3 separate regions of the Homo sapiens genome follow, and regions 1 and 3 are each linked to region 2. The links come from fine-mapping of genetic effects on gene expression. A gene starts in region 2. Each other region holds a variant in brackets. All regions are shown on one strand. Distances are from middle to middle.

The links. PIP is the estimated chance that this variant, and not a neighbour inherited with it, causes the effect.
Region 1: its variant is the best candidate, but not a certain one, in a credible set for the expression of XRN1 in whole blood (TOPMed, PIP 0.78).
Region 3: its variant is the best candidate, but not a certain one, in a credible set for the expression of XRN1 in blood mononuclear cells (TOPMed, PIP 0.56).

The regions. Positions count from the first base shown.
Region 1 is chr3:142,401,342-142,411,846 of GRCh38, forward strand. It overlaps XRN1 (5'-3' exoribonuclease 1), which reads right to left. Exons shown (of 41, transcript NM_001282857.2): 16 at 3,566-3,735; 17 at 2,528-2,648; 18 at 2,333-2,431. It also overlaps the pseudogene RNU6-1294P. Among named protein-coding and RNA genes, the nearest start is that of XRN1, 41 kb to the right of the region's middle. The variant G/C (reference allele first, on the strand shown) is at 5,739.
Region 2 is chr3:142,441,574-142,452,078 of GRCh38, forward strand. XRN1 (5'-3' exoribonuclease 1) reads right to left here and starts at 6,464. Exons shown (of 41, transcript NM_001282857.2): 1 at 6,297-6,464. The coding sequence starts at 6,371. It overlaps ATR (ATR checkpoint kinase), which reads right to left. Exons shown (of 47, transcript NM_001184.4): 47 at 7,662-8,029. The coding sequence ends at 7,856. It also overlaps the pseudogene EIF2AK1P1. RefSeq lists a silencer at 2,508-2,714 and enhancers at 4,290-4,649, 6,182-6,461.
Region 3 is chr3:142,282,819-142,293,323 of GRCh38, forward strand. No RefSeq gene overlaps it. Among named protein-coding and RNA genes, the nearest start is that of GK5, 62 kb to the left of the region's middle. RefSeq lists an enhancer at 2,389-2,683. The variant C/A (reference allele first, on the strand shown) is at 4,792.

The sequences.
Region 1 (10,505 bases), 40 kb before region 2:
CATGAAAGCTTTCATAAACCATAAAATGCTCTACAAATATTCTGTAGGAAATAATATCTTAAGTAAAAAATTCTAGTTTTAAGAAACTGTAGGCTGGGCGCTGTGGCTCACGCCTGTAATCCCAGCACTTTGGGAGGCCGAGGCAGGTGGATCACGAAGTCAGAAGTTCAAGACCAGCCTGGCCAAGATGGTGAAACCCGGTCTCTACTAAAAATACAAAAAAAAAATTGGCCAAGCGTGGTGACAGGAGCCTGTAATTCCAGCCACTCGGGAGGCTGAGGCAGGAGAATCGCTCCTGGGCAGCAGAGGATGCAGTGACCCAAGATAGCGCCACTGCACTCCAGCCTGGGTGACAGAGTGAGACTCTGTCAAACAAACAAACAAACACATAACTTCTTGACCAAGGGCTTAATACTTGCTACCTTTACTTCCCGTCTACACAATCTTAGCCTAGTTCTCAGAAATTGAAATTCTGCTTCCACCAATCTACCGAAATGGAATTTTCAAAGATCAACATTGATGTTCTAAAAGACAAATTCACAGATCTTATTTGAGTTTTTATTATTCTTCAGATTTATGCAGCTTACATCCTCTGCTCCATGCTTCTGTGGTACTATTTAACTTTGGAATCACTCTTCCTAACCTCTCTGTTTCTACTGGCTCCCTCTCCACCATTTATAACTGTGGGCATTTCTTTATGCTGAGACCATGAACACTCAATGCACCTTGTCTTCAAGGAAATGAACCTCAAAGTCATCAATTCTCTGTTGACAACTTGAATATCCTTCTCTCTCTCCAAGCTCTAGCTCCAGGTATTTAACTGTATATAAATAGCCTTTCTTTTTTTTTTCCTTTTTTGAGATGGAGTTTCGCTCTTGTCACCCAGGCTGGAGTGCAGTGGCGCGATTTTGGCTCACTGCCACGTCCACCTCCTGGGTTCAAGCAATTCTCCTGCCTCAGCCTCCCGAGTAGCTGGGATTACAGGCACCCACCACCAAGTTTGGCTAATTTTTGTATTTTCAGTAGAGATGGGGTTTCACCATGTTGGCCAGACTTGTCTTGAACTCCTGACCTCAGATGATATGCCCGCCTCAGCCTCCAAAAGTGCTGGGATTACAGACGTAAGCCACCATGCCCAGCCATAAACAGACTTTCTAAACAGGTTTTTCATCTGAATCAGAGAACACAAAATACGTCTACTTTCTCTGTTCTCTCAAAGATGGTACATAACTCCTACTGTTCTAAATGCACAGAAGATAAGTTAATTTATTGCTTACAATGAATGACTTAGGGCATTAGGGCTTATACATCTTGTGGAATACTGGTTAAGAAAGGCTGGCAAGGCAGTTCCGGTTAAACATCCTAGTGTTACCTTAAAATTCCATCATTATTTATCATTTCATCCCCCTAAACTATCAACTCCCCTGTTTTAACTTTTCTAGTCCAGTAAATTACAATTTTTTTTTTAGTTAATTAGCCTGGATATCTCAGTCACATTTACTATTAATAGTTTCTCTTTTCACCCCCTGTATTTGACCAAATAATGAAACCTATCAGTTTTATTTCATCTTGTTCATCTAGATCTATTGCTACTTCTGAAGTTTATGTCTCTATCACCTGATGCTACACTCGCAAGCTTTCCCGCTTTCTTTGATTTCTCTTTTGTGCAATTTAGTTTATTATACTGCCACCAAATTAATCTTTATGAAAATATCAATTCCAAAATAATGGTCATGGGAAAATAAGTCCAAACTCAGCCTGGTACTCAAGGTTCGACATAATCTGGCCTCAATCTGATTTTTCAAACTTATCTTCTACTATTTCCAAACACAAATCCTCTGCTTCAATAAGGCTTATTTATTCCTTCTCCTCAAATATATCACATTTATTCTAAAGAAAAGACTAAGTGTTAAGAAATAGTTCAGATACACAAAAAGGTTAAAAACAATAATATATGACATTTTTGACTGAAATGACTGGCTCATGATATTTCTTTTGACTAGAATGCCTTTCCCCTCCTTTTCTGTGTCCTAACCTGTTTTTCAGTCCTCAGCTCAAGCCTATTCTCATTTACAAGTCTATACTTAACTTTTGGTTTACATAGCTCTTCTCCTTTTTAAAATTTCTAGAAAATTTGTATATTCATTGTGTCACAGTGATACAGGTTCTTGAACTATTATCTAATTTGTATGAATGTTTCTTTGCTTCATCCTTATTTAGGCTCCAAATTTCTAGAGTTACAACATATAATACCTCCCTGGTAAACATCCCAGCAGCTACAGTTTAATACATTATAGGCATCTAATAAATGAATGATAAATAAAATACTTACAAGTTCATCTGATTCTGCATCCACTAAGATTTCCAACATCATGTTTTCTCCACGACTGCTTTGCTGGAATACTTGAACACCACTTTTCTTCAAAAAAAACTTTAAAAGAATTCAAATAATTTAATTTTAATTCTTTCTCCATAATCACTTCACACTTAATAAAGTGAAAAAATTCTGAACTAAATAGCCACTGACTTTGTGTCTGATGTGTTTCAGAGTAGGAAATCCACAGAAATATAATGCTTTCTGGTCAATTCTGGTTATTTTGTTTTTGTTTATGTCTACACGCCAAGCATCTAAGGATATTATTTTATACCTAGAAAATAAATCAAGGCATTTAATTTAAAATTAATACATTACAAACAATTACAGTTTTTTAACTTTCCCTTGTATATTTCGTAAGAGTCATCCTTGCTTTTAAAGAAGAGAATGACAATTAGTTCCAGACAAAGAAAACACAAGCAGATAACCAGCCTCTCTATTGTTACTGGTCTAGACACAATCATGCCTGTAGATTACTAAGTTGAGATTTTCCCCATTAATCTAAAACAAAACTATATATATAAATTTTAAGATAAAATATGACACATAACACAAATCTCTATATCCTCCATGTTCCAAAACCCAGGATGGAAAATAAACATTTTATAATGCCTGTTTTATCTTTCTCTTTCCTTTAACAAAAGGAAAAGTTGTAACTGAGAGATGTTTACTTTATTTGCAACTCAATTGCCATCTGGGTAGATTATTTGCAGGGAAGGTGAGAGAAGAGAAAAAAAAGGAAGATATTTTCATGAAGAGAAAAAAATGGAGCTCTTTATTTCTTATTTCCTTCTTTCTAGTTGGGTGGCTGGGGGGTATAATCAATATCACAGCGTATCAAATAATGCTGGGAGCAGAAACACTGACAATGGAAACAAAAATTCACATATCCATTCGAGGGAGACAAAATGCAGGGATATACATTAGAGAGAAAAAATTCAAACACTTTTAATAGAAGAAGGAAAGAGAAACAAAGAATCTGACCAAAGTAGAGAATTATAGACACAAGTGTGAAAGATCCTTAGATCCTCTGCAAGTTAGATGTAACTCATTGATTATCAATTGACTATAACTGTCATAAACTATTTGCTAATTCTCCAAACAGATATTCAAAGCTCCCCCTTCACCACTTCTCGCACCCTTGTGTTAGGAGCGCTCTTTTGTTGTTGAAAAATTACCAAGTAACATTACCTTGTACAACATCGTTCTATGGCAGGGAACTTTTCTGGCCATGGAGAAGGATAGATAAACTCTGTGTCTCTATCATACCAGCACATTAGGCACTCACTATGTTGGTTTCTTTTCCTCTCTTCCTTTTTGAGGGAGTGGTTACATGTCTCCATGGCTTCCAATAATCGCTTCTGAATATAAGGATTGAAGAGAAGGGTTACAAGCATAAAAATTCCATAATCTCAACAAACAGAATAAGTCTTTTTCCTCCATATACAGAATAACCATTTGTGCTCTTGAAAAACAAAAAACCAAAATCTTAACTAATGAAACTCTTCCATTTTATTGCATGAAAAATATGCTATTTATTGTTTCAAAGGGCCCTAGAATACTGCTACCACTGCAAAGTTCTCTGAAGCTATTACCCCAACAGTTGCCACTAAAGTGCAAATAAGCAAGGCAGCAGAAAATCAAATTTTAAGTGTGAATCTATTATAATACTATATCATAATTCACAGAGCATTAATCTCTTACTTTACAAATTCTGTAGTAGTATAGTGATGTCCATCTTTCCAAATTAACTTATACATTTAAAGTAATTCCAGTCAGGACATCAATGATTTAAAATATCTTTTTTTTAAAAAAAGAATAAGATACCAGTGTTAATATGGAAGAATAAATGTATGGACAGTAAAAAGTAACCAGGGACTTGTCTTACCAGATTCTATCACTTTTGATAAAGCTACTGTAATCAAAACACTAGTACTGACACTACAAGAGACCCACAGACCAGAAGAACAGAATAGAGTTCAATAATAGACCCAAATCTATGCCAAAACAGTCCTTTAGGTATTTAAATAATGACAATGTCCTAACTAGCTATCCAGCTGAAAAAAAAGCACATACACTTCTGAACTTCCTACCATATATAAAAACAAGTATCACAATAACAAAATAACAAATGTATCAGAAGAAAATCTAGGTGGTATTGATAATTTAGTGTGATAAAGTTTTATTTAAGGAAGACAGAAAAAAAACGAACAGCCTTAAGGGGAAAGACATTTTTTAAGTAAAAGATAATGTATATGACAGAAGATGCCATATACAAATCAAGAGACAGATGTGATACTGGGGAAAACTATTTCTAATATATAAAGTAGCTAAAAATCAAAAGAAAAAAAGAAAGAGAAATGGGGAGAGAATATAAACAAGCAAATTACAAAAGAGAAAATGGAAAAGGTAAACATACATAAAAGTATTTTCAATAAGACATATGGACCAATGGAACAAAATAGAAAGCCCAGAAATAAATCCATAATTTATAGCCATCTGATTTTTGACAAGGTTGCCAAGAACACACAACAGGGCAAGGATTGCCTCTTCAATAAATGGTGTTGGGACAACTGAATATCCATATGCAGAAGAATAAAACTGGACTTTTATCTTACCATAAACAAAATCAACTCAAAATGGATTAAAAACCTAAACATTAAGACCTTAAACTATAAAACTACTAGAATAAAACACAGGACAAAAGCTTCTTGACACTGCTCTTGGCAATAATTTTTTGGATATGACTGCTGACATGGCTGAATTAATAAAGTCATATTTGGGAGAAAGTAGATGGCAAAAAGGCATAAACATTTTTGTTTTTGTTTTGAGACAGGGATTTGCTCTGACACCCATGCTGGAGCGCAGTGAGGCAATCATGGCTCACTGCAGCCTCAACCTCCTGGGCTCAAGTGATCCTCTCACTTCAGTCTCCCAGGTAGCTGGGAATACAGGTATACACCACAACATCCAGTTCATTTTTTTTTTTTTTGGTAGAGGTTGGGTCTTGCTGTGTTGCCCAGGGTGGGCTTGAACTCCTGGGCTCAGGCAATCCTCCCAAAGTGTTGAGATTACAGGTGTGAGCCATAAACATTATTTTTGATGAGAATTTCAGCTGGAGGATGAGCACAACAGTTGTTAAGATATAACAAAATCTTGCAGTCATCATCCAGTCAGCTTCCCTGCAGTAAGCACAAGCTGCTGGTACAAAATGTTTGTGAAACCAATCTGAAAAGATGTCCCTGGTGATCCATGCCTTTTTATTAGCATAATAATGGATTGGTATGAAATTCACTCCTTGAAAACAGTGAGAACGCAAGCTTTTGCTTATAACAGCAAGTTTACACTTATGCATGCCTGCTGC[G/C]TAAGTATATCTCAGCACAGTTATTTGGTCTTTGGCATCCTTAATTCTTGGAAGGGCTGTTTCATCAGCTGCAGTCAGTGTCTTTCTGGGGCAATAATGCCCGAACAGTGATGTTTCATCAGCATTACAGACTTGTTCCAACATCACTAGCAAAGACCCTGGCAAACGTGTCATTGAATTTCTCTAGCTTCATGATAAGCAGGTGCTTTATCATCCCAAACATTTAAAAATTCAATGCTGTGACTTTTAAAATTTATTTATTTATTTATTTGATGGAGTATCACTCTGTCACCACACTGGAGTGCAGTGGCACAATCTCGGCTCACTGCAACCTCCACCTCCTGGGTTCAAGCAATTCCCATGCCTCAGCCTCCTGAGTAGCTGGGACTACAGGCATGAACCACCAACCTGGCTAATTTTTGTATTTTTAGTAGGGTCAGGGTTTCACCATGTTGGCCAGGCTGGTCTTGAACTCCTGACCTCAAGTGATCTACCCAACTTGGCCTCCCAAAGTGCTGGGATTACAGGCATGAGCCACTGTGCCCGGCCTACTTTTTTGTTTTTATCATTACTATTTTTTAGCATGGAATGCTTCATGAATTTGTATATCATGCTTGCGCAAGGGCCATGCTAATCTTCTTTGTATCATTCCAGTTTTTTTTTTAAGTATATGTACTGCTGAAGAGAGCACTGTCTTTTTTTAAACTTTTGCAACCAGTCTGTTAAATGTTCACAGTTCTCTTCAATTTCCAGTTCACTGTGATAGATCTGTTTGTTTCATTATCAGCCTGCCATTAAATGGCATGTATTCACAGCAATGCTGACAAATGCAGTACTTCAATACATGATTGATATCTTCATTTGTAGCTTTATGCAGTATTCTCTTTTTCATTAACTTCTGCTCATCACTTCCAGCACAGAATGTCAACAGCTTACCCTTCTGTTTCTTCAGGTCATATATGGACATTCTAATAGCATACTCTTCTAAAAGACAGTTCACACACCGCTGTCTAGTTTCTCCAACAACTTGACTTTCTATGCTACAGGTAAACATAAATGCTTCCTATTTTTCTTGACACCAACACCCATAGGGGTAGCTGCAGTCCTTTTTGACACTGTCAACACTATCTTCACACCAGACTAAAGAATAAGCGAAGTAATACAGTGAGTAATGCACATAGGCCTGGGGCCCATTTGGGGCATTGTGGGGAACCTGCCATTGGCGCATCTGGCCTATACATGTGCCATTTTATTACCCTTTGTGGGGGTGCTTGGGTGGGGGAATCTGGGTGTGTGCAGAAAAGGTATATTGCAGCTGAAAAGGGCTGGGAGGGTCTTCTATCCCTTGCGATGCAAATAAGCTGTGTTGTGCACCTGCATTTTGACTGCAACCCATCCCATGACACCAGGTGCAGATTTTCTATTTGCGGCATCAGATTGATGCTCAAAGTTTCTAATTTTGGAGCATTTCAAATTTCTGATTTTCAGATTAGGGATGCTTAATCTGTACCACAATTTACTTATCTATTGTCCTGCTGACTGGTATTGGGCGGTTTCCAGTTTAGTTATTATGAATAGTCTTGTACAAAACATTTTTTAAACATACTTTCCCCTCCTCTTGGTAAATATCTAAGAATGGAATTGCTGGGTCCTAGGGTTAGGTGTATAATTTACTTTATAAGAAACTGCCAGATAGATATGAAAAGTGCTTTTATCCATCTTATACTCCCATTAGCAGTGTATAAAAATTCCAATTGCTCCACATTCTTGCCAATATTGGGTATTGCCTTTTAAGTTTTTTCCATTCAACTGGGATTATGGTATAGTGGTATCTTATCATGCTTTTAATTTACATTTACCTGATGCCTAATGATGTTGAGCACTTTTCCATTGTTTATTATTTGTATATCTTGCCTTGTGAAAATGGCCCTTCAAAAATATTTTGCCATTTAAAAAATTGGGTTGTGTCTTTAACTTGAGTTGGAGGAGCTGGTTATATACTCTGGATACCAGTCTCATGCATGTGTATGTTCTGCATATATTTTTTTTCTCCTACACTGTGGCTTATCTACTCTTTTTTAAATAGCATCTTTTGATAAATGGAAATTTTTTTGATTTTGGTGAAATCTATTTTCTCAATTCTTTCCCTTTATGGTTAGTGATTTCAGAATCTTGAAATTTTCTCCTAAGTTTGCTTCAAGAAGTTTTATGGTTTTAGCTTTTATTAATACATTTAGATCTATGACATATTTTGAATTAAGTTTTGTGTATGGTGTGAGGTATGGGTCAAGATTCACTTTTATTCACAAATATAGCCAGTTGTTCTAGCACCAACTTTTGAAAAGCACTTTCTTTACTCACTGAATGCTTTGGTGCCTTAATTGAAGATGAATTAACTGCATAAACATACATTTGGGTGGACTATTTCTGTTCCAATTTATCTATTTGCTTATGGCTATACCAATAACAGACTGTCTTGATTAATGTGGCTTCATGGTTAGTCTGGAAATCAGGTCATGTAAGTCCTCCAACACTGTTCTTTATATGGATTGTTTTGGTTTTCTCCTTTGCAATCTTATAAAAACTTTAGAATCATATTTTCAATTATATAAAAACCTGCTAGGATTTTCACTGGGATTGAATTTAAAGATCAAATTGAGGAGGACGTACACCTTAACAATATTAAGTCTTCATATCCATGAACATGATATAATCCCTTCATTTACTTAGGTTTTCCATCTCTTTCAAGGTAGAGGGCTTCCACATATGTTGTTAAGTTTATAGCTGTGTATTTTATATTTTTAAATGCTATTTTAAGCAGAATCTTTAAGCTTCTTATTTTAAAAGTTTTGTATTTTCAAATGGTTTGTTGCTAGTATATGGAAATACAATTAGTTTTTGTACAGATCTTATACTCTGTAACCTTGCTAAAGTTACTTATCAGTTAAAGTTTCTCTTTTGAAGATTTCTTAGAATTTTTACATAGATAATAATGCCACTTGCCACTAAAAACAATTTTACTTATTTTCTTCATCTTAACACACTGGACCTCCAGTAAAACGTTAGAAAGAAGTGGTTAGAATGGACATCTTGTCCTATTCTTGACTTTACAGGAAATTGGTCCTTCTTTTACTATTAAGTATGTTGTTTGCAGTAAGATTTTTTATATGCCTTTATCATAAGGTTGAGGATGTTTCCTGTTATCCTTGTTTGTTGAACATTTCTATTAAAACTGGATGTTTGTGAAAAAAATATTCTTGGTCAGATAGTGGAAGGTGGAAAAAAAACTGGATGTTGAATATTGATAATGTGGTAAATTACATTGCAAACTAACTTTGTATTTCTAAAATAAATCCCATTTGGTCATGAGTATTATCCTTCTTATACGCTGTCAGATTCTATCTCATGTTTTTTTTTTTTTTTTTTTTTTTTTGAGATGGAGTCTGGCTCTGTTGCCAGGCTGGAGTGCAGTGGCTGGATCTCTGCTCACTGCAACCTCTGCCTCTGAGGGTTCAAGCGATTCTCCTGCCTCAGCCTCCTGAGAAGCTGGGACTACAGGTGCCCACCACCACGCCCTGCTAATTTTTGGTATTTTTAGTGGAGACGAGATTTAATCTTGTTAGCCAGGACAGTCTTGATCTCCTGACCTCATGATCTACCCACCTCAGCCTCCCAAAGTGCTGGGATTACAGGCATGAGCCACCGTGCCCGGCCTCATGTTATTTCCTTAGGAGTTTTTGCATCTACTTTTAGGAGGAGTATCAGTCAGTAATTTTCATTTCTTTTAATGCCATGTCAAATTTGGGTCTCTGGAATATGCTAGTCTAATAAAATGTTGGGAAGCAATTTCCTTTCTTCTGTTTTCTGAAAGTTTGTGTAAGATTGGCATTATTTCTTAAATGTTTGCTAGAATTCACAAGTGAAGACATCTGGGCCTAGAATACACAAAAGACTATTCAGATTTTTATATTTTTTTCTGTGAGTTTTGATAAGTTGTGATGAAATATGTTCACTTCATCTAGGTTGTTGAATTTGTTGACATAAAGTTTGACCATAACATTCCTTAACTAACCTTTTACTATATGAAGGAACTATAAGATAGCTCCTCTTCATTCCCAATATTGGTAATTTATTTCTGCCTTCCCCCCTTTTATTTAACTTTCTTGATTAGTCTAGGTAGGATTTACTGACTTTATTAATCTTTTCAAAGAACCAACTTTTGATGTCATTAATTATTCTCCATTGTTTGTTCATTTTCTGTAGATTTCTGCTTCTTTTTATTTCCTTCATTCTGCTTGAGTTTAATTTGCTCTTCTTTTTCTATCTTCTTAAGTTAGAAGCTTAGGTAATTTATTTTAAACCTTTTTCTTGTTTAGCGTCTAGAACCTTAAATTTCCTTTTAAGCCCTGCTTTAGTCGTATCATACTGACCATGGATCCCTTTTTTTTCTTTCCTGAGGGAAAAAAAGCAATCCTACCGTCTTGGCCTCCCAAAGTGTTGGGATTACAGCATGTGTGCCACCATGCTCAGCTCCCATTATGATGTATTGTATTTTAATTATCGTTCAGATCAAAATATTTTCTAATTTTTCTTTTAATTTCTTCTTTCATCATAGGCTATTTAGAAGTGTGCTATTTAGTTTCAAAATGTATGGGGATCCCCCAGATCTTTGTTACTATTTCTAATTTAATTCTATGAGTAGGTTTATAGCATTACTCAAATCTTCTTTATACTTACTGAAAATTTTTTTTTTTTTTTTTTTGAGAT
Region 2 (10,505 bases):
TGCAGTCTTAGTATCTGAAGCAGTTAAAATAATACAGGGAAGAGATCTTACTGTGTGGACACCTCATGATGTGAATGGTATACTCACTGCTAAAGGAGACTTGTGGCTCTCAGACAACCATTTACTTAAATATCAGGCTCTATTACTTGAAGGGCCAGTGTTGCGACTGTGCACTTGTGCAACTCTTAACCCAGCCACATTTCTTCCAGACAATGAAGAAAAGATAGAACATAACTGTCAACAAGTAATTGCTCAAACCTAAGCCGCTCGAGGGGACCTTTCAGAGGTTCCCTTGACGGATCCTGACCTCAATTTGTATACTGAATTCGCATACAATTCGTATACAATTCATTCGTATTCATATACATACAATGAATTCGTATACAAAAAGTCCTTCATAGAAAAAGGACTTTGAAAAGCAGGGTATGCAGTGGTCAGTGATAATGGAATACTTGAAAATAATCCCCTCATTCCAGGAACTAGTGCTCAGCTGGCAAAACTAATAGCCCTCACTTGGGCACTAGAATTAGGAGAAGGAAAAAGGGTAAATATATATACAGACTCTAAATATGCTTACCTAGTCCTCCATGCCCATGCAGCAATATGGAGAGAAAGGGAATTCCTAACTTTGGAGGGAACACCTATCAAACATCAGGAAGCCATTAGGAAATTATTATTGGCTGTACAGAAACCTAAAGAGGTGGCAGTCTTACACTGCCGGGGTCATCAGAAAGGAACGGGAAATAGAAAGGAACCGCCAAGAGGATATTGAAGCCAAAAGAGCCGCAAGGCAGGACCCTCCATTAGAAATGCTTATAGAAGGACCCCTAGTATGGGGTAATCCCCTCCAGGAAACCAAGCCCCAGTACTCAGAAGAAGAAATAGAATGGGGAAGCTCACGAGGACATAGTTTCCTCCCCTCAGGATGGCTAGCCACCGAAGAAAGAAAAATACTTTTGCCTGCAGCTAACCAATGGAAATTACTTAAAACCCTTCACCAAACCTTTCACTTAGGCATTGATAGCACCCATCAGATGGCCAAATTATTATTTACTGGACCAGGCCTTTTCAAAACTATCAAGCAGATAGTTAGGGCCTGTAAAGTGTGCCAAAGAAATAATCTGCACTGCAGGCCATACATTTCAATCCCTGTATCTTTTTATTTTTATTTTTATTTTGAGATGGAATCTCGCTCTGTTGCCCAGGCTGGAGTGCAGTGGCGCGATCTCACCTCACTGCAAGCTCCGCCTCCTGGGTTCACGCCATTCTCCTGCCTCAGCCTCCTGAGTAGCTGGGACTACGGGCGCCCAACACGACGCCCGGCTAATTTTTTGTATTTTTAGTAGAGACGGGGTTTCACCGTGTTAGCCAGGATGGTCTCAATCTCCTGACCTCGTGATCCACCCGCCTCGGCCTCCCAAAGTGCTGGGATTACAGGCGTGAGCCACCGCGCCCGGCCCAATCCCTGTATCTTTAACCTCCTTGTTAAGTTTGTCTCTTCCAGAATCGAAGCTGTAAAACTACAAATCGTTCTTCAAATGGAGCCCCAGATGCAGTCCATGACTAAGATCTACCGCGGACCCCTGGACCGGCCTGTTAGCCCATGCGCTGATGTTAATGACATCAAAGGCACCCCTCCCGAGGAAATCTCAACTGCACCACCCCTACTACGTGCCAATTCAGCAGGAAGCAGTTAGAGCAGTCATCGGCCAACCTCCCCAACAGCACTTAGGTTTTCCTGCTGAGAGTGGGGACTGAGAGACAGGACTAGCTACATTTCCTAGGCCGACTAAGAATCCCTAAGCCTAGCTGGGAAGGTGACCGCATCCACCTTTAAACACGGGGCTTGCAACTTAGCTCACACCTGATCAATCAGAGAGCTCACTAAAATGCTAATTAGGCAAAACAGGAGGTAAAGAAATAGCCAATCATCTACTGCCTGACAGCACAGTGGGAGGGACAAGGATCGGGATGTAAACCCACGCATTCAAGCCGGCAACAGCAACCCCCTTCGGGTCCCCTCCTTTTGTATGGGAGCTCTGTTTTCACTCTATGTCACTCTATTAAATCTTGCAACTGCAAAAACAAACAAACAAACAAAAACAAACTAAAAATAGAGCTACCATATGATCCCAGCAACCCCACTGCTATCTGTGTTAATATAACCCAAAGAGAGGAAATCAGTATATCGCAGATATCTGCACTCCTTTGTTTGTTGCTGTACTGTTCACAATAGCCAAGATTTGGAAGCAACCTAAGCGTCCATCAACAAATGAATGGATAAAGAAAATGTGGTATATACACAATGGAGTACTATTCAGCCACAAGAAGGAATGAGATCCTGCCATCTGCAACCACATGGGTGGAAATGCAGTTCATTATGTCAAGTAAAATAAGTCCAGCACAGAAAGACAAACATTGCATGTTCTCACTTATTTATGGAATCTAAAAATCAAAACAATAGAACTCATGGACATAGAAAATAGAAAGATGGTTCCTAGAGGCTGGGAAGGGTAGTCGGGGAGTCAGGGGAGAGGTGGGAAAGGTTAATGGGTATAAAAGAAAAACTGAAAGAACGAATAAGACCTAGTCTGGGCACGGGGGCTCACGCCTGTAATCCCAGCACTTTGGGAGGCCGAGGCGGGCAGATCACTTGAGCCCAGTAGTTCAAGATCAGAGTGGGCAACATGGCAAAAACCCATCTCTATTTTTAAAAAGATTTAAATTAAAACAAACAGAACAAAAAAACACAGGCCAGGCACGGTGGCTCATGCCTATAATCCAAGGACTTTGGGAGGCTGAGGTGGGCGGATCACTTGAGGCCACCAGGAGTTGGAGAAGAGCCTGGCCAACACGGCAAAACTCCATGTCTACTAAGAACACAAAAATTAGCTAGGCGTAGTGGCACACGCCTAATCCCAGCTACTTGGGTGGCTAAGGCACAAGACTTGCTTGAACCGGGGAGGCAGGGGTTGCAGTGAGCCGAGATTGCGTCACTGTACTCCAGCCGGGGTGACAGAGCGCGACCTTGTATCCAAAATAAAAAATAAAAAAAAAGAATGAATAAGACCTACTATGTGATAGCACAACAGGGTGACGATAGGCAATAATTTAAAAACAACTAAAAGAGTGTAATTAGATTTTAACACAAAGGATAAATACTTGAGTGGATGGATACTCCATTCTCCATGATATGATTATTACACACTGCATGCCTGTACGAAAACATCTCATGAACCCCATAAGTATATACACTATGTTTCATAAAAAAAAATAATCATAATAATCCCAGGCTTCATTTCACTTTTTTAAAAAATACTGTTTTACAACATACTAATATACCATGTCTATTTTAATATGCATTTCTATATGCTATATGCTATAGCTAATAAATTAATTCACTCAAAAAATATTTACTGAGTACCCATTCTGTTATGCTGCTTTGGTTTTTTCTTTTTCAGGCACCTCTACTATTTGTCTTCTTTGCCTATCTTTCTTATCGTTACTTTTTCTTGAATCTTTTAAATCTATTTTATTTTTTAAAATTTCATCTTTCCACTGCCGATTGTTTTCTCAAATGGTATCATTTGCTCGTCTTGCTTCTATTTGAGGCTCAGCTCTGCATTTTTTTTTCATTTACTTCTAACTTTCTCTGTCATCTCATTCTCACATTTTCATAATTGATACACGTTGTTCTTTCATGTCTTACCTCATTTTCTTAATGCCTTTTAACTCATTGTGAAATAGATAATAGTTTTGGTTATAATTTTGGTCTATTTTGTGTGCATTTTTTTCATTGCAAGTTTTTATGTCTGGAGAGATACTCTGTCCCTTTTTCTCGTATAATAACTTTGTATGTAATTTGATCTCAATACCTTTCTGTAGCTCATTTTTATGTGAATTTAATTTTCTTGAACTTTTAGAATGAGTAGAGGTTCAGGGAATATAAGTTCACAAAGCTGTTTCTGGGTAGTGTTAAAAAATACAGTGGTTTGCTTTGTGGTTTGTTTTCTAAGATTTCTTGATTCTATGACTTTGCCTCACTTTTATATGGTCTATCTCCTTCTCTTCTTGTCTCTATTGTCCCTTTCATAAAATTTTATTCCACTTCCAGCATAACATTTCCGTAAGACTTTATTCCACTCCCTTTTCCTTAGGGCTCTGGTCTAGAATGGCACCTTGGCAAGTCAGTTTTGAGTGTTCACAGGAGGTAGACTACTCCTGCCTGTTTGGTCTTTCTTATGGTAGACCTTCACCCAGTCAATAATGGAGTGAATAAAACTCCTCTGTTTCAGCTACCGCTATCTAATTGGCCAGCACAGTCTTTTAGTGGATACCGCTGGCTATTCTGGAATTCTGTTCTAAGGTTCATCAGATGTTGCCCCATTGCTTCCTTCTCGCTTTTGCACAGATGGCAATATCAACGGTGTCTAGAGACTATTGATAGTTTGCCTCACCTAGTTATGTTTTGAGTTTCATGGGGATAGCATGTCACATGGTTTGTTGTAATTGTTTTATGGATTTTAAACTTTGGTTTCTAGTTTCTCTTTCTGTTTTTACAAGATGATTCAGAGAAACTGAAAACCTATGCTACTGAGGCCACACCACTGACTTCCCGTAACTTACTTCTTCTCCCTATCCTTCCCGCCCAGGACTAGCTTTTGAATGCCTGTGACTTATTTAGGCATTACCATCTTTAAGTTCTACTTAACAGAGAAGCTGATAACCTTTGGTCTCTTTTTAATCAAACATTTTTGAAAGGTATCACAACAATGAACCAAATTTTAAAATTTATTTACAGTGAAATTTAAAAATAATTCTCCTCCCAGTTTCTATATAAAGCTTTCACAAAACCTATCCTTAGTGTCCATGTCATAAAACTGCATTAAAGAGATTTTCATTCTTCAGTAACAAAATTCCTCAGGATGGAGAGAATCTAAGATATTTTCACCAAACCAAATTCTGTGCCACAGACTACAGAATAAAAATATTACTGAACAAATTATGTATTAAATCATCACGAATAACAATCGCATTATTTTTGCACTTTAGAGATAAAGTGACTGATATATAGCAGGTACTGACTGAAGGATGCAAGAAAAGCCAAAGTTGGTTGTCTCCATTTCTGCAATGTACTGGTTTCCTTTTTAGCCCTCCCCGGGGGAAAAAAATACCTCTCTAAACCTAACTCAATCTATGTTTCAAATAAATTCAAGATAAGCTAACCTTGGAAACTTTTTGTAGTCTATTTCTCATCTACCAAATCTGATTGGAATCCAGCAACAAAAACTCCTTTCCAGAAGTAAACTACCTTCATGTTCGTAAATGCCGATTAAACCATAATTTAATAGGCTATTTACAATACTACCCATCACAACTGATTCAATCAGCTACACAAATTTCAAGCTTTTTTTCTGTAAAGCATCAGAAAAGAGATCAAATTCATTAAATGTGACAAACACCAAAGTATCACCCAAAGTCTAGTTTACCTAATAGACGACTGCTTTCTCCTCTCTTTCCACAGTTCCAATATATAAACTACGTTTTCGGAATCTACACATTAACGTTGTCCTGGGGTCAGTACATGCCAAATATTATTAGTAGTATTAATGTTCTATCAATTCGTTTCCCAACCCCCTCTGTCACACAGTGAGGCCTCCAAATAAAAGGTCCTACGCCCCACTCCCCAGCTGGCCCAAGAGTTTTTTGTTTTGGCAACAGGGGATTGGTGCTGCTTTTGAAATAACAGAAAGTAACAAAAGGCATCACCAATATGACCATCAGCCACGTCGGAAAGTCTAGGCTCCGGGGGCCGGGTGGGCCGCGCTCTAGATCAGGGAAAGTAAACAAGGTGACTGCGTGCGGAAGCGGCTGTTATCGTCTGTAAGTGGGTCTGCCGCTCTGGGTGGGATGGGGGAACCTACGAGGACACCCACTCCAGCTTCGCAGCCTCTGTAAGGAAAAAGGCAACTTGCAGCTCCCCGGGAGGAAACCGGAGAACAGTAAAAGCGTTCTTTCCCAGGACTTCATTTCGGAGTCGCGGAAGGACCAGCAGAAGCAAGAGCTGTCAGAGAAGCCGTGAACCCAGCGGCTCTGTCCACACACAGGCAACCTGCGTCCTTAGCCCCTTTCGGCTCATCCGGGCGTCCTCAAACCTTCCGTCCCCCTCCCTAATGCCACTAATCGTCCAGACGACGAGGGGAAAGAGGTGGCTCGAAAGCCCCAGCTCTAAGGTGGAGAGGGCCGCGGAGCCCCGGGTCCTCGGCTTTCTGAGCCGTTGCCCCTCGCTCACCCACCTGATGCTCTTTCACCACTTCGCTGAGACAGGGATACCGCTCTGAGATCCATCTGTAAAACTTGGGGACTCCCATTTCGATCGTCAACACTAATCCCAGTCAGGGCCAAACCGAAACCAAACGCCCCGCCGGGGCTCCGCCGCAGCCTCCGGTCGTCGCTCCGCGGATGACAACACACCGCCCGGCCGACCATAGAGAGCGCCCGGCGGGCCTAGAGCGGCAGGATCCGAGGCCGTCCGAGGGGCGGGGCTTAGCCCTCCGGGCCTCGCGCGGCCGGGGCCGCGGTACTGTCCAGTGGCGGTCAGGGAATCTGCGGAGGTTTGCTGGTGTGTTGCAACTTAGGGGCGAAAATGCCCCATGATAGAGTTGTGCTTTCTAAGTGGATTTGGAAGTGGCATGAAAACCGTACGAAGGTGTGGGAAGGGTATCGAACACTGATTTTTGTTCCGCTTGTCTCCTAGGGTTGCTAATCTCAGTATTTTTCATTCAGATTTCGAAAGATCTGGTGATTTACTTGGCTTAGTTTGTTGTTTTGTCAATAATTTTTTTTCTCTGAGGAATTTAAACTTACGTTTCTTAATACATACGTTTAAAAACGTTCTTTTCCAAATTGTTCAAAAAAATTTCCCATGTACCCGCCCCCCGCAACTGTTAACATAAGACCTTGGATACGAAATCATTTAATGTTTAGTTTTGACATTCTTGCATCCGGGTTTATCATATTTTTCCCCATCACACTTTCAACCGCACAGCAAAGGAGAGTTCTATCAACTTAAGTGAAATTATCAGTTTTAAATGTAAGAGTTTTCCACTTATTTGAATGTATTAACCCGTTACTTTGTATTTAAGTCTTCTGGATGAAAACTTACAGAAAAACCTTAAACATTTAATACTTTTTGGATTTTAAGATCTCAGGAAATGTTAAGTATCGCTGTCTTTCATGACCACTGGATTCTGCATTCTGGGACTGCAGTATGGCAGCATCACACAAATTACAGAATGTTTATTTCGTTTTCACATTCACGCTTCTTGGCTTATATTTTTTCCCTATCACACTTTAAAACAAAGTTTTATTAAGTGAACTTAATGATATGCTATTTATATTTATATATCTCTCTTACTAGACTGTCACTTCCTGGAGGGCAGGAGAGGGTAGCTCTATGCACAAGTCTGGCACAACGCCTTGCCCACAGTATTTATTCCATATAATTTTGTTCTTCAAGTGAATCCTTACAATAGCTAGGACTTTTAAAAGGAAATCAATAGAAGTTGTAAAATGAAATTAGACTTGCTTGTTTCTTGCAAATATAGTTTTTGACCATAAGAACACATGATATTCTATTTCTCCAATTATAATGCACAGTATGTATTAAGAAAGCAGTTTATTTCTTAATAACTGAATGTATATTATTTTACATATAATTAATGATCAGAGAGAAATAACAGTTGCTGAGAACGTAAATTTATGTTGTACTTTAGAATTGAACAGATACAACCACAGATTCATACCAAATGCATTACTTTTAGATTATTAACATATTCTTTTACATAATTTCATTTCACATATATGGAGTCCAACCAAGATACATCTGGCATAGTAAGTTTTCATCAGTAGCTTCCTGTATAAGGTAATGCACATGTCCTTCAATAGATAACGGCAGTCCTGTCACTCTATTTCGAGTCTTGATTACACCTTGTAGTCGCTGCTCAATGTCAAGAACATGGGTCTTGGCCTAAAAAGAAGAAACATAAAACCAAAAACAGATGTTAATAATTTGGAATTACTACCTTTCTTTATATTTTGACATTTAATAAATGTTAATACCATTTTACTGACCAATACCCCTTTTGTAAGAGCAAATACAGGAAAAGAAGAAATTAAACAAATACAGTTAGCTTGTGATACTGATTTGGAGGCTCGCAAGATTGATTCAACATCAACTGCTTGGACATGTTTCTGGACTACGTGAAATACCAGGGAATTATTTACACATTACAATTCTAGAAAAATAATTTTTTAAATCTGCTTTGGAAGTGTTTAGGACTTAAACATTTCAATGAATATTCAAATAACAATGCTGTACTGCCTAATATTTACATTATGTTAGTACATGCAAATGGGTGTTCTAAGTGAGCTACTTGGAACTGTACAATTTCTTAAGCATATCTGAATGCAAAAGGAAGAATAACGTTATTAGAAGAATAATTCTCAGAGGTGGTGCTGGGTGGGCTGGTGGGCTGCGCTGCAGCCCACGAGCACAAAGAGGAGGGCCACGGGGTGGAGACTGTTGCTGTGCCATCTGCCATCGACTTTTCCGCCAAGAGCCTGGACTCCAAATATGACTTATGTTCCAGCAGAACTCCAGGTATTAAAATAACCCCTACAACAGCCAACTTTCCCTTTTGCAGTTGCAAACCAGCTGCCGCTTATTTCTTTGGTGAAGCACTTGAGCCATGTGCGTGAACCAAACCCAGTTCATTCAAGACAGTGTTTAAGTTACTTTGCCAGACCTTTATCAAAATGGGGCTGCTGTCTTCTTTCACTTGTGACAAGTTTAGCTCATTGAGACTACATCACCACAGAGCTATTACTCACTTAATGAGGTCCACTAAAGAGAGAGTTCATCAGGATCCTTGTGAGGCTATTTCTCATATCCAGAAAATCAGATCAAGGGAAGTACCCTTTGAAGCACAAACTTCACGTTACTTAAATGAATTTGAAGAACTTGCCATCTTAGGAAAAGGTGGATATGGAAGAGTATACAAGGTCAGGAATAAATTAGATGGTCAGTATTATGCAATTTAAAAAATCCTGATTAAGGGTGCAACAAAAACACATTACATGAAAGAACTACGGGGAATGAAGGTGCTGGCAGGTCTTCAGCACCCTAATATCATTCGTTATCACACTGCGTGGACAGAACATGTTCAAGTGGTCCAACCACAAGCAGACAGAGCTTCCGTTCAGTTGCCATTTCTGGAAGTGTTCTCCGACCAAGCAGACAGATACCAATACGGTGTTAAAAATGGTGAAAATAGCAGCTCACCCATTATCTTCGCGGAGCTCACCTCAGAAAAGAAAAACCCTTTGCAGAATCTGACACTCAAAATCAGAACAACAAGCTGTGAACTACACCATCAATTCCGTCTTAAGAGACACCAGTGAATATGAATCATCCCTGGAGCTCCAGGAAAATGGCCTGGCTGGTTTGTCTACCTGGTCAATTGTGAAACAGCCCCTGCTGCTCAGGTGTAATTCCCTCCTAGAGGAGAATTTCACATCCACTGAGGAATCTTCCAAAGAAAACTTCAACTTGTTGGGGATCGAGGTGCAGTACCACCTGATGCTGCACATCCAGATGCAGGTGTGCAAGCTCCAGCTGTGGGACTGGCTAGCTGAGAGAAACAAACAGGGCCAAGAGTGTGTGGGCAAGTTTGCCTGTCCTTATGGCCAGTGTTGCAACAAAAAATTTTCAAGATTTAGTGGAAGGTGTGTTTTACATACATAACATGGGTATTGTAAACAGAGATCTGAAGCCTAGAAATATTTTTCTTCATGGCCCTGATCAGCAAGTAAAAATAGGAGACTTTGGTCTGGCTTGCCCAGACATCTTACAAAAGAACACAGACTGGACCCATAGAAACAGAAAGAGAACACCAACACCTATATCCAGAGTGGGCACTTGTCTGTATGCTTCATCCCAGCAGTTGGAAGGATCTGAGTATGATGCCAAGGGTCTCACTCTGTTGCCCAGGCTGGAGTGCAGTGGTGTCATCATAGCTCACAGCAGCCTCCAACTCCTGGGGTCAAGTGATCCTCCCACCTCAGCCTCCCAAGTAGCTGGGACTACAGGAGTGTGCCACTGAGCCCAGCTAATTAAAAAAAAACAAAAACTATTTGTAGAGACCAGGGCTGGCTTTGTCCAGTTAGATATGTATATAGCTTGAGTGTGATCCTGCTAGAGCTCTTTCAGCTGTTTAGAACAGAAATGGAGCGAGCAGAAGTTTTAACAGGTTCAAGAACTGGTCAGATATTGGAATCCCTCAGTAAAAGGTATCCAGTACAAGCCAAGTATATCTATCACTTAACGAAAAGGAACATGTCCCAGAGACCATCTGCTCTTCAACTGCTACAGAGTGAATTTTTCCACAATTCTGGAAATATTAATCTCACCCTACAGATGAAGATAATAGAGCAAGAAAAAGAAA
Region 3 (10,505 bases), 160 kb before region 2:
GCTGATCTTGAGAGCAGCTTAGGGAGGGTCAAAATCTTGTAACCTCCAGCTGCATGACTTCTAGGCCATGGTTTCTAATCTTGTGGCTAGTTTCTTGTCTGGTCCCCAGGCAAGAGGGAAGTATACCTTAGGAAGGGGCTGTTATCATCTTTGTTTTAAACTATAAACTGCAAACCAGGGTTCTCCCAAAGTTGGTTCGGCCCATGCCGAGGGATGGGCAAGGACAGCTTGCAGGCTGGAGCAAGATGGAGTTACTTGGGTTGGATCTCTTTCACTGTCTCAGTCACAGTTTTGCAATGATGGTTTCAAAAGCTGCTTACCACCCCTTTGAAAATACCTCATACACTGGAGGTTAAGTTATAACCTAATTAAGGCTTGTTGGTTTCACCTGTGGGGTTACTTTTTGTAAAGTTCCAAAGCTGAAAATCTTAATTGTTTTGCATGGCTGAAGTCGAGTAACAAAAGATTTAAAAGGATTTTCTTAAATAGTGCTCAGCTTAATTAAAAATGGATAGCCAAGTTATAGGTATATTTAAAAGGCATTCACGTTTTTCTCTTCTTGGATCTTATTTTTCTGGAAAAAGGTTTTTTCTTCTCAGTCGACTGAATTATTTTTCTCCATTTTTTTGTCTTTCCACTCTTAATGCACACATGAGAGGCCCTAAGATAACTTCTGGTAGCCTGGGACTCCTTGGGAAAAACAGAGGAGGCACCATAGATTCCATTTTGGGGGAAAAACCCCCTATTTTCCTCATGTAACCCCAGGAATTGAAAGTGGATGGATCCCTCTCAAAATCAAAGGCTCTGTTCTGTTTTGCATTGTGTTATCTGATGGTTTTAAGTTTTGGGGGTATCAAAAGTTACCTTGCAGTATGAGAGAGCTTTGGTGTGTAATAACTAGGTAGGAAATATACTTTAAGGGATGGCTAATAGTGTTCATGGAGGGATACTTAACTCTTTGCACATTTGAATCAGAGAAGCATGCTCTTGTCCACCTGGAAGATATGGAAACATCCCCACTCCCCATTAAGAGATGAGACTCCATGGAGGATGGGCTAATTACAAAACAAGCCAATTGGCTTTGGGTTGCCTTGCAATGATATGCAAGGTAGAAGCACTGCACTGCCTCCTCCTGTAGCATCTCCCTCATTCTGGGGATCCAAGATCCAGTATAAAATGGCACCCTTAATTTTGGGGATCTGTCTTTGCCTTCAGCTGTGCCTGCTTATTAGGCCCTAAAAATGCATTCCTTCCTGTTCCTCCAAGGGCTTTACCCTGAAGCAGGTAATCCAATTAATAAACTTACAAATGAAAAATCTCAGAAGTGCTGAATCTTCTGTCTGTCTGTGTATATATGTGTTGTGTGTAATGTCTATAAAAAGAGCTCTAATTGATTGGCTTAAAGAAAAATGAGTGCTTAAATCAAGTATTTTTAAAGAAAAAATAAAAAGCTGTAATGCTTTTTAGTTCATATGACTTTAATCTTTAAGAAATAAAAATAGTCTTAAGAATTATTGGTAAAATACAAGGGTCATAAACATGTAAATAGGTGGTCTAAATCATGTAAGTCAGATACTAGGTTTGCTAAATGTTCCAAGGTTGTAAACTACCTGCTTTACAACTTGGTAAGGCCTGGGGACATACGAAATTAACCACACCCCTAAGTATGCTGGAAAAAGTCAGACTTTATCTATGCCTAATACATAATCAAAACAACCTACCAGGTTTCACAGTAAAGTTAAAAATTACCCAAAGTTACCACCATAATGATATAGGAGTTAAGAATGTTTCACGTGTCCGTGTGAAGAGACCACCAAACAGGCTTTGTGTGAGCAACAAGGCTGTTTATTTCACCTGGGTGCAGGCGGGCTGAGTCCAAAAAACGAGTCAGCAAGGGTGGTGGGATTATCATTAGTTCTTATAGGTTTTGGGATAGGCGGTGGAGTTAAGAGCGATGTTTTGGGGACAGGGGGTGGATCTCACAAAGTAACTTCTCAAGGGTGAGGAGAATTACAAAGAAAATTCTTAAGGGTGGGGGAGATTATAAACAACATTGATCAGTTAGTGTGGGGCAGAAACAAATCACAATGGTGGAATGTCATCAGTTAAGCTATTTTCACTTCTGTGGATCTTCAGTTGCTTCAGGCCATCTGGATGTATATGTGCAGGTCACTGGGGATATGATGGCTTAGCTTGGGCTCAGAGGCCTGACAAAGAAGAAATTACTTAGGCAGATAGTGAGGGTATGGAAGTGCTTGGTAAGGTTTTCCTTTTAATGAAAAGCAGCCCAAATCATTTTCTAACAAAGAGCAGCCTGTAAAGTTGGGCCTCAGACATAGACAAGCAACTGGGAGCTTGCAGGAATGAATGCAGGTAGGAAAGAACTAGCTGGGACTAGACATGTTCAAAATGGTGGCTCCATCTTCCCTTATCTGTCAGCCACTGTACAGTAAGGAGCAGACAAGATGGCACCGGCCCAGGGGAGAGTTCATTTGCATAATAAGATTAGGGTGGGATGAGGAGCCTTCCCTGAGAGCTATGTAAACGTCACACCTGATTGAACCAATCTGTGAGCCCTATGTAAATCAGACACTGCCTTCTCAAGCCTGACTATAAAATCCAGCACATTCATTGCTGGCCAGTTTTTTTTTTTTGCTCTCAGAAGCCCCCTCTCTCTCACTAGAAGAGTTGTTTTCCTTTCTCTTTCTTCTGCTTATGAAACCTCTGCTCCTAAACTCCTCATGTGTGTCTGTGTCTTAAATTTTCCTAGCATGAGATGATGAACACTGGGTATTTACCCCAGACAACATAGCCACTTCAATAACATGTAATTTAAACTACTAAAAATAAATTTATATGCAAGATGTGTAAAAACAGTAGAATGTATTTTCTAGTAAAAGATTATGAGAAGGCATGGAAATGTACATTTTTCCTAGTCATAAAAGATTGTCTTAAGTTAGATAAGAAAGCTGAAGGTTTAAGCAAGTTATGGAAAGGTTGTAAAAATTAATCTTGCAAAAATTCCATGTGTAAACATTAACTAAATTCAAAAGGGAATTATATGGTCATTTCATAAATTAAGCATTGAAATAAAGGTTGTCTTAAAACGCTAATCTGCCCTTTAGCAAAAGGGTTATAAAAGGTTTGTAAAGATTTCACCTCATGGTCAAATTGGTTAAGATGAAATGGAATTGTCTATGAGGTTTCATCAAAAAATTGGGGTTAACAATAAACTAATGCAAGGGTAAAATTTTGCTTTGAATAGGATTTTCATGTAATAGTAAAGGCTAATAAAAGGTTTTTGCCTTTTGAGTCATCATTTTGGAAAAATAAATAATTTATTGTAATCTGGAATTCTACTTCATAAAATCAAGTGTTTTAAACCTCTAATATTTAACAGCCTCCCCAAAATCAAACTTCAAATTTCAAAATTGCCTTTCCTGATGTCTAGCTTTCTGGATGGTTCAGAGGGCCCCTGAAGCATCCAGAGAGGTGGTGAACAGAATTATTTGATATGTTTAGTTAGATGGGATTGCCAAAATGATGTTCAATCTTTAAGTTATATTTTGGTGAATAATACTAATATATGTTCCAAAATTGGGGATTTCTAAAATTCTAATGTCTGAATATATGCTATCATCATAATTAAGGTTGTTATGTTAAGTCATTGTAAACCATAGAGATAACCAAACTTCTTTATCAGTTGCATTTTTAACTGTACCCTGGAAATTTTTTCACTTGCAGACAATTGTCTTGCTTTGTTCCTTCTGAAAAGATGATTTATAGTCAAGCTATAAGATGTTAACAGGTGCTCTCAAATGCAGGTTTCTAATAGCTTTGAAGATTATAACATTGGAATATAAAAAAAAGTACAGAACTCATGAAAAGCTAAAATGTTCACAAATATCAACAAAACCAAGAGTTAACCAAGTGAACTCAGAAAGCTAAAGCAACCTTTTCAACTTTTGCTTGGAATATTGCTGATCCTTGTTTTGTTTTTCAGAGTCAAGGAAACTTATTTTGAACTAGTTACAGCCTGTAATAATAATAATACCTCATGAGTAAGGTATACTCCTGTTCATAAAATTTGGAGCATGTTTATTTCTCTCTGTCTGGTTCCTCTGGAATTTGGAAACTATCTGTGAGTATTATTAACTTATGGCAACATGGTTGTTGGCATCAGTGCAATAAGAATCCATTTTTCTTTTGCAACAGGACACCATTGGAAAAAAAAGTGCTTATTTTACCAGTGCTTTGACTGGAAGCATGTGTTTCCCTTTAAGGAATCGAGCTTGACATGCAGAGCAAATAAAAGCCCCTTGGGGAAGACTGGCCTCATTCCTTGTCTACACAGTCCCCATACAGCGTTCCTGACCTGTTGTCAGTAAAGAATGTCACTTTCTAACAGGTCCAGGAGCTCCAAGTTTATCTTGAGAGGATCACCCAATTCACAGGCATTTGAGAATACAATCCCATGGCTGGGCTGGGCTTTAAAAATTCTTATTTCAGTTTCCCTGGGGAATAGAGTTCCATCAAACTCAACCCAAAAGGCCCATGTAGAAATAGTTATTCTTGCTGGACTTTATGCAAATAATCAGGTCAAGTATAAGACTAAAATTTATTCTATGAATAACATGGTCCTATCATAATTTGTTTTTACCAAAATGAGGACAACAAGGAGAAAAATTGTATTCCAAAACTTATACATTTGTCATTAAATTCTAGTCTCATTGTTTTTAAGTTTTTTTTGCTACATTTTAGACTAAACTTGCTTATTCCTGTGAATCAAAT[C/A]ATGATCTCCTGCAGCTCAGAAGAAACACAAAAGGATGGGTAATGTAAAAATCTGGATCAATATGCTAGTTCTGGGCAATTATCCTGAAAATCCTGCCAGGTAATGAAAGTTAGTAGGGTGTCCATAACCCAGAGGTTTCTTTGTTTGGGAAAATAAAGCCAAGGAACTTCATAAACCTCCAAAGGGAAATTGTGTATCTTGGAAAGTAAAATTTTAGATGGAAATAATCCACTATGCCACCCTTGCAGGAATTGCAATACTCACTCTACTATTTGCAGTAAAGCCATATATGATAGCACCTTCTAACTGAAATATTGGACAGAGAGTTTCCATTGTTGTAGCATTTTGCTTAATTATTATACTTATAGCAGGGATAATAGCTACCGATCAAGAAGTAAACATGAAGGTTTTACTATCACTGAGTCTGCCAAGATTTTTTACTGGCTTCGGTAATGTGTCACACCCTAGCTATGCAAAGAGGGTTATAAAGAAAATAAACTTTACATAAGAAGGGATCTTGTATATTAAATTCTTGTCCTAAAGAGAATTACTGGTTGTTTAAAAAGAGGGATGTTTAGGACAAGCCAGAAAGTCTAAGCATGTCATAAATGGTCTGTGAAAGTCATGAAGGGATCAATAATTGCAGGAAAGATTTCAGGTTAACACTAAAGTTATTCTAGTCACCCAAATCCAATGTCGCTTATCCTAAAAGAATGTTACTTTTATATTAATGTTTCAGCAGCATCTGGTGGAGGCAAACCAGTATCACAATCCATCAGAATAGGTGACTGCAATCAACCTCCAATGCTGCTGCACATAGAAACACATATGGACATGCCTTTCTTCTGTGGAACCTTAGACCAACCCCAGGAAGAGCCCTAGCTGCTGTTCCCCACATGACACCACTTTTCAGCAGGAAGTAGCCAGAAAGAGTTGTCGTCCAACACATCCTAACAGCAGTTAGGCTTACCACTCCTGAGGGGCAGAATGATACAGGAGTTAAGAACAAATTACTTACGCAGATATTGTGGGCACGGGAGTCCTTGGTAAGGTTTTCATTTTAATAAAAAGCAGCCCCAAAATCATTTTCTTTTCTAAAAAATAACAGTCTGTAAAATTGAGTTGCAGACATGAACAAGCAAGCTGGAAGCTTGCACAAGTGAATGCCAGCAGTTGTGCCAATAGAAAAATACTACATGGGACTAGGGATGTTCAAAATGGTGGCTTCATCTTCCCTTCTCTTTGTCAGCCACATGTACAGTAAGGAGCAGACAAGATGGTGCTGGCCAAGTGGAAAGCCCTTTTGCATAATAAGATTAGGGTGGGGTGACAAGCCTTCCTTGAGTGCTACGTAAATGTCAAACCTGATTGAGCCAGTCCATGGGCCCTACATAAATCAGACACTGCTTCCTCAAGCCTGCCTATAAAATCTGCTGCACTCCACTGCTTTTCTCTTTTTCGGACACCTCTCTCTTGCAAGGAGCTGCTCTCCTCTCTCCTTTCTTCTGCCTATTAAACTTTCCATTCCTTAATCCACCCACGTCTGTGCCCTTAATTTTCTTAGCATGAGATGACGAACCCTGGATATTTACCCTAGACAGTGATGCTGCTTCACCAGGAGATGTAGCCATGTGTTACTTGTATAATTAAAAATTAATTCAAAAAGGAAAAGAAAGAACATGTGTTTTGGGATTCAACAGGCCTATTTTGAATCTCAGTTCAGCAACTATCTTTGGGCAAGTTAACAGTTTTGTGTCTTAGTGTTCTCATTTGTGAAATGAGATATATTTATTTTATTTTAATTTTTTGAGACAGGGTCTCATTTTGTTACTCAAGCTGAGTGCTGTGGTGTGATCATGGCTCACTGAAGCCTTGACTCCTTGGGCTCGAGCAATTCTCTGCCTTAGCCTCCTGAGTAGCTGGGACTACAAGTGTGCACCACCATGGCCGGCTCATTTTTTTTATTTGTAGAGATGGGGGTCTCACTATGTTGGCCAGGCTGGTCTCAAATTCCTGGACTCAAGTGATCCACCCACCTTGGCCTTCCAAAATGCTAGAATTACAGGTGTGAGCCACTCACTGTACCCAGCCTGTACCTTTTTTTTTAGACACGGAATCTCACTCTGTTGCCCAGGCTGGAGTGCAGAGGCGCGATCTCAGCTCACTGCAAGCTCCGCCTCCCAGGTTCATGCCATTTTCCTGCCTCAGCCTCCCGAGTAGCTGGGACTAGAGGTGCCCATCACCACACCCAGGTAATTTTTGTATTTTTAGTAGAGACGGGGTTTCACCATGTTAGCCAGGATGGTCTCGATCTCCTGACCTCGTGATCCACCCGCCTCGGCCTCCCAAAGTGCTGGGATTACAGGCATGAGCCACCATGCCCAGCCAGCCCATATCTTATATTATTATAATATTATTAGTGTTTGGAGGATTGAAAGTATTATATAAATTGATTGGTACCTACCTAGTAGATATCCCATAAGTAGTAGTAGTTGTTATTACTGAGCCTTGAGAACAAAACTTAGTTTTGGGTTCATGGAGACATAATTAATGATATGACAATGCTTGTGAACAATAGAAGTTATAAAGCCCTGGTGGAGGAGCCAAGATGGCCGAATAGGAACAGCTCCGGTCTACAACTCCCAGCGTGAGCGACGCAGAAGACAGGTGATTTCTGCATTTCCATCTGAGGTACCGGGTTTATCTCACTAGGGAGTGCCAGACAGTGGGCGCAGGTCAGTGGGCGGGCACACCGTGCGTGAGCCGAAGCAGGGTGAGGCATTGTCTCACTCAGGAAGCACAAGGGGTCAGGGAGTTCCCTTTCCTAGTCAAAGTAAGTGGTGAAAGATGGCACCTGGAAAATCGGGTCACTCCCACCCGAATACTGCGCTTTTCCGATGGGCTTAAAAAACGGCTCACCAGGAGATTATATCCCGCACATGGCTTGGAGGGTCCTACGCCCACGGAGTCTCGCTGATTGCTAGCACAGCAGTCTGAGATCAAACTGCCAGGTGGCAGCGAGGCTGGGGGAGGGGCGCCCGCCATTGCCTAGGCTTGCTTAGGTAAATAAAGCAGCCGGGAAGCTCCAACTGTGTGGAGCCCTCCACAGCTCAAGGAGGCCTGCCTGCCTCTGTAGGCTCCACCTCTGGGGGCAGGGCACAGACAAACAAAAAGCAGTAACCTCTGTAGACTTAAATGTCCCTGTCTGACAGCTTTGAAGAGAGCAGTGGTTCTCCCAGCACACAGCTGGAGATCTGAGAATGGGCAGACTGCCTCCTCAAGTGGGTCCCTGACTCCTGACCCCCAAGCAGCCTAACTGGGAGGCACCCCACAGCAGGGGCAGACTGACACCACACACGGCCAAGTACTCCAACAGACCTGCAGCTGAAGGTCCTGTCTGTTAGAAGGAAAACTAACAAACAGAAAGGACATCCACACCAAAAACCCATATGTACATCACCATCATCAAAGACCAAAAGTAGATAAAACCACAAAGATGGGGAAAAAACAGAGCAGAAAAATTGGAAACTCTAAAAAGCAGAGCACCTCTCCTCCTCCAAAGGAACGCAGTTCCTCACCAGCAACGGAACAAAGCTGGATGGAGAATGACTTTGACGAGCTGAGAGAAGAAGGCTTCAGATGATCAAATTACTCTGAGCTATGGGAGGAAATTCAAACCAAAGGCAAAGAAGTTGAAAACTTAGAAAAAAATTTAGAAGAATGTATAACTAGAATAACCAATACAGAGAAGTGCTTAAAGGAGCTGATGGAGCTGAAAACCACGGCTTGAGAACTACGTGAAGAATGCAGAAGCCTCAGGAGCCGATGCGATCAACTGGAAGAAAGGGTATCAGCGATGGAAGATGAAATGAATGAAATGAAGCGAGAAGGGAAGTTTAGAGAAAAAAGAATAAAAAGAAATGAACAAAGCCTCCAAGAAATATGGGACTATGTGAAAAGACCAAATCTACGTCTGATTGGTGTACCTGAAAGTGACAGGGAGAATGGAACCAAGTTGGAAAACACTCTGCAGGATATTATCCAGGAGAACTTCCCCAATCTAGCAAGGCAGGCCAACATTCAGATTCAGGAAATACAGAGAACGCCACAAAGATACTCCTCGAGAAGAGCAACTCCAAGACACATAATTGTCAGATTCACCAAAGTTGAAATGAAGGAAAAAATGTTAAGGGCAGCCAGAGAGAAAGGTTGGGTTACCCTCAAAGGGAAGCCCATCAGACTAACAGCAGAGCTCTCGGCAGAAACTCTACAAGCCAGAAGAGAGTGGGGGCCAATATTCAACATTCTTAAAGAAAAGAATTTTCAACCCAGAATTTCATATCCAGCCAAACTAAGCTTCATAAGTGAAGGAGAAATAAAATACTTTACAGACAAGCAAATGCTGAGAGATTTTGTCACCACCAGGCCTGTCCTAAAAGAGCTCCTGAAGGAAGCGCTAAACATGGAAAGGAACGACCGGCACCAGCCACTGCAAAATCATGCCAAAATGTAAAGACCCTCAAGACTAGGAAGAAACTGCATCAACTAACGAGCAAAATAACCAGCTAACATCATAATGACAGGATCAAATTCACACATAACAATATTAAATTTAAATGTAAATGGACTAAATGCTCCAATTAAAAGACACAGACTGGCAAATTGGATAAAGAGTCAAGACCCATCAGTGTGCTATATTCAGGAAACCCATCTCACATACAGAGACACACATAGGCTCAAAATAAAAGGATGGAGGAAGATCTACCAAGCAAATGGAAAACAAAAAAAGGCAGGGGTTGCAATCCTAGTCTCTGATAAAACAGACTTTAAACCAACAAAGATCAAAAGAGACAAAGAAGGCCATTACATAATGGTAAAGGGATCAATTCAACAAGAAGAGCTAACTATCCTAAATATATATGCACCCAATACAGGAGCACCCAGATTCACAAAGCAAGTCCTGAGTGACCTACAAAGAGACTTAGACTCCCACACATTAATAATGGGAGACTCTAACACCCCACTGTCAACATTAGACAGATCAACGAGACAGAAAGTCAACAAGGATACCCAGGAATTGAACTCAGCTCTGCACCAAGCAGACCTAATAGACATCTACAGAGCTCTCCACCCCAAATCAACGGAATATACATTTTTTTCAGCACCACACCACACCTATTCCAAAATTGACCACATACTTGGAAGTAAAGCTCTCCTCAGCAAATGTAAAAGAACAGAAATTATAACAAACTATCTCTCAGACCACAGTGCAATCAAACTAGAACTCAGGATTAAGAATCTCACTCAAAGCCGCTCAACTGCATGGAAACTGAACAACCTGCTCCTGAATGACTACTGGGTACATAACGAAATGAAGGCAGAAATAAAGATGTTCTTTGAAACCAACGAGAACAAAGACACAACATACCAGAATCTCTGGGACGCATTCAAAGCAGTGTGTAGAGGGAAATTTACAGCACTAAATGCCCACAAGAGAAAGCAGGAAAGATCTAAAATTGACACCCTAACATCACAATTAAAAGAACTAGAAAAGCAAGAGCAAACACATTCAAAACCTAGCAGAAGGCAAGAAATAACTAAAATTAGAGCAGAACTGAAGGAAATAGAGACACAAAAAAACCCTTCAAAAAATTAACGAATCCAGGAGCTGGTTTTTTGAAAGTATCAACAAAATTGATAGACCACTAGCAAG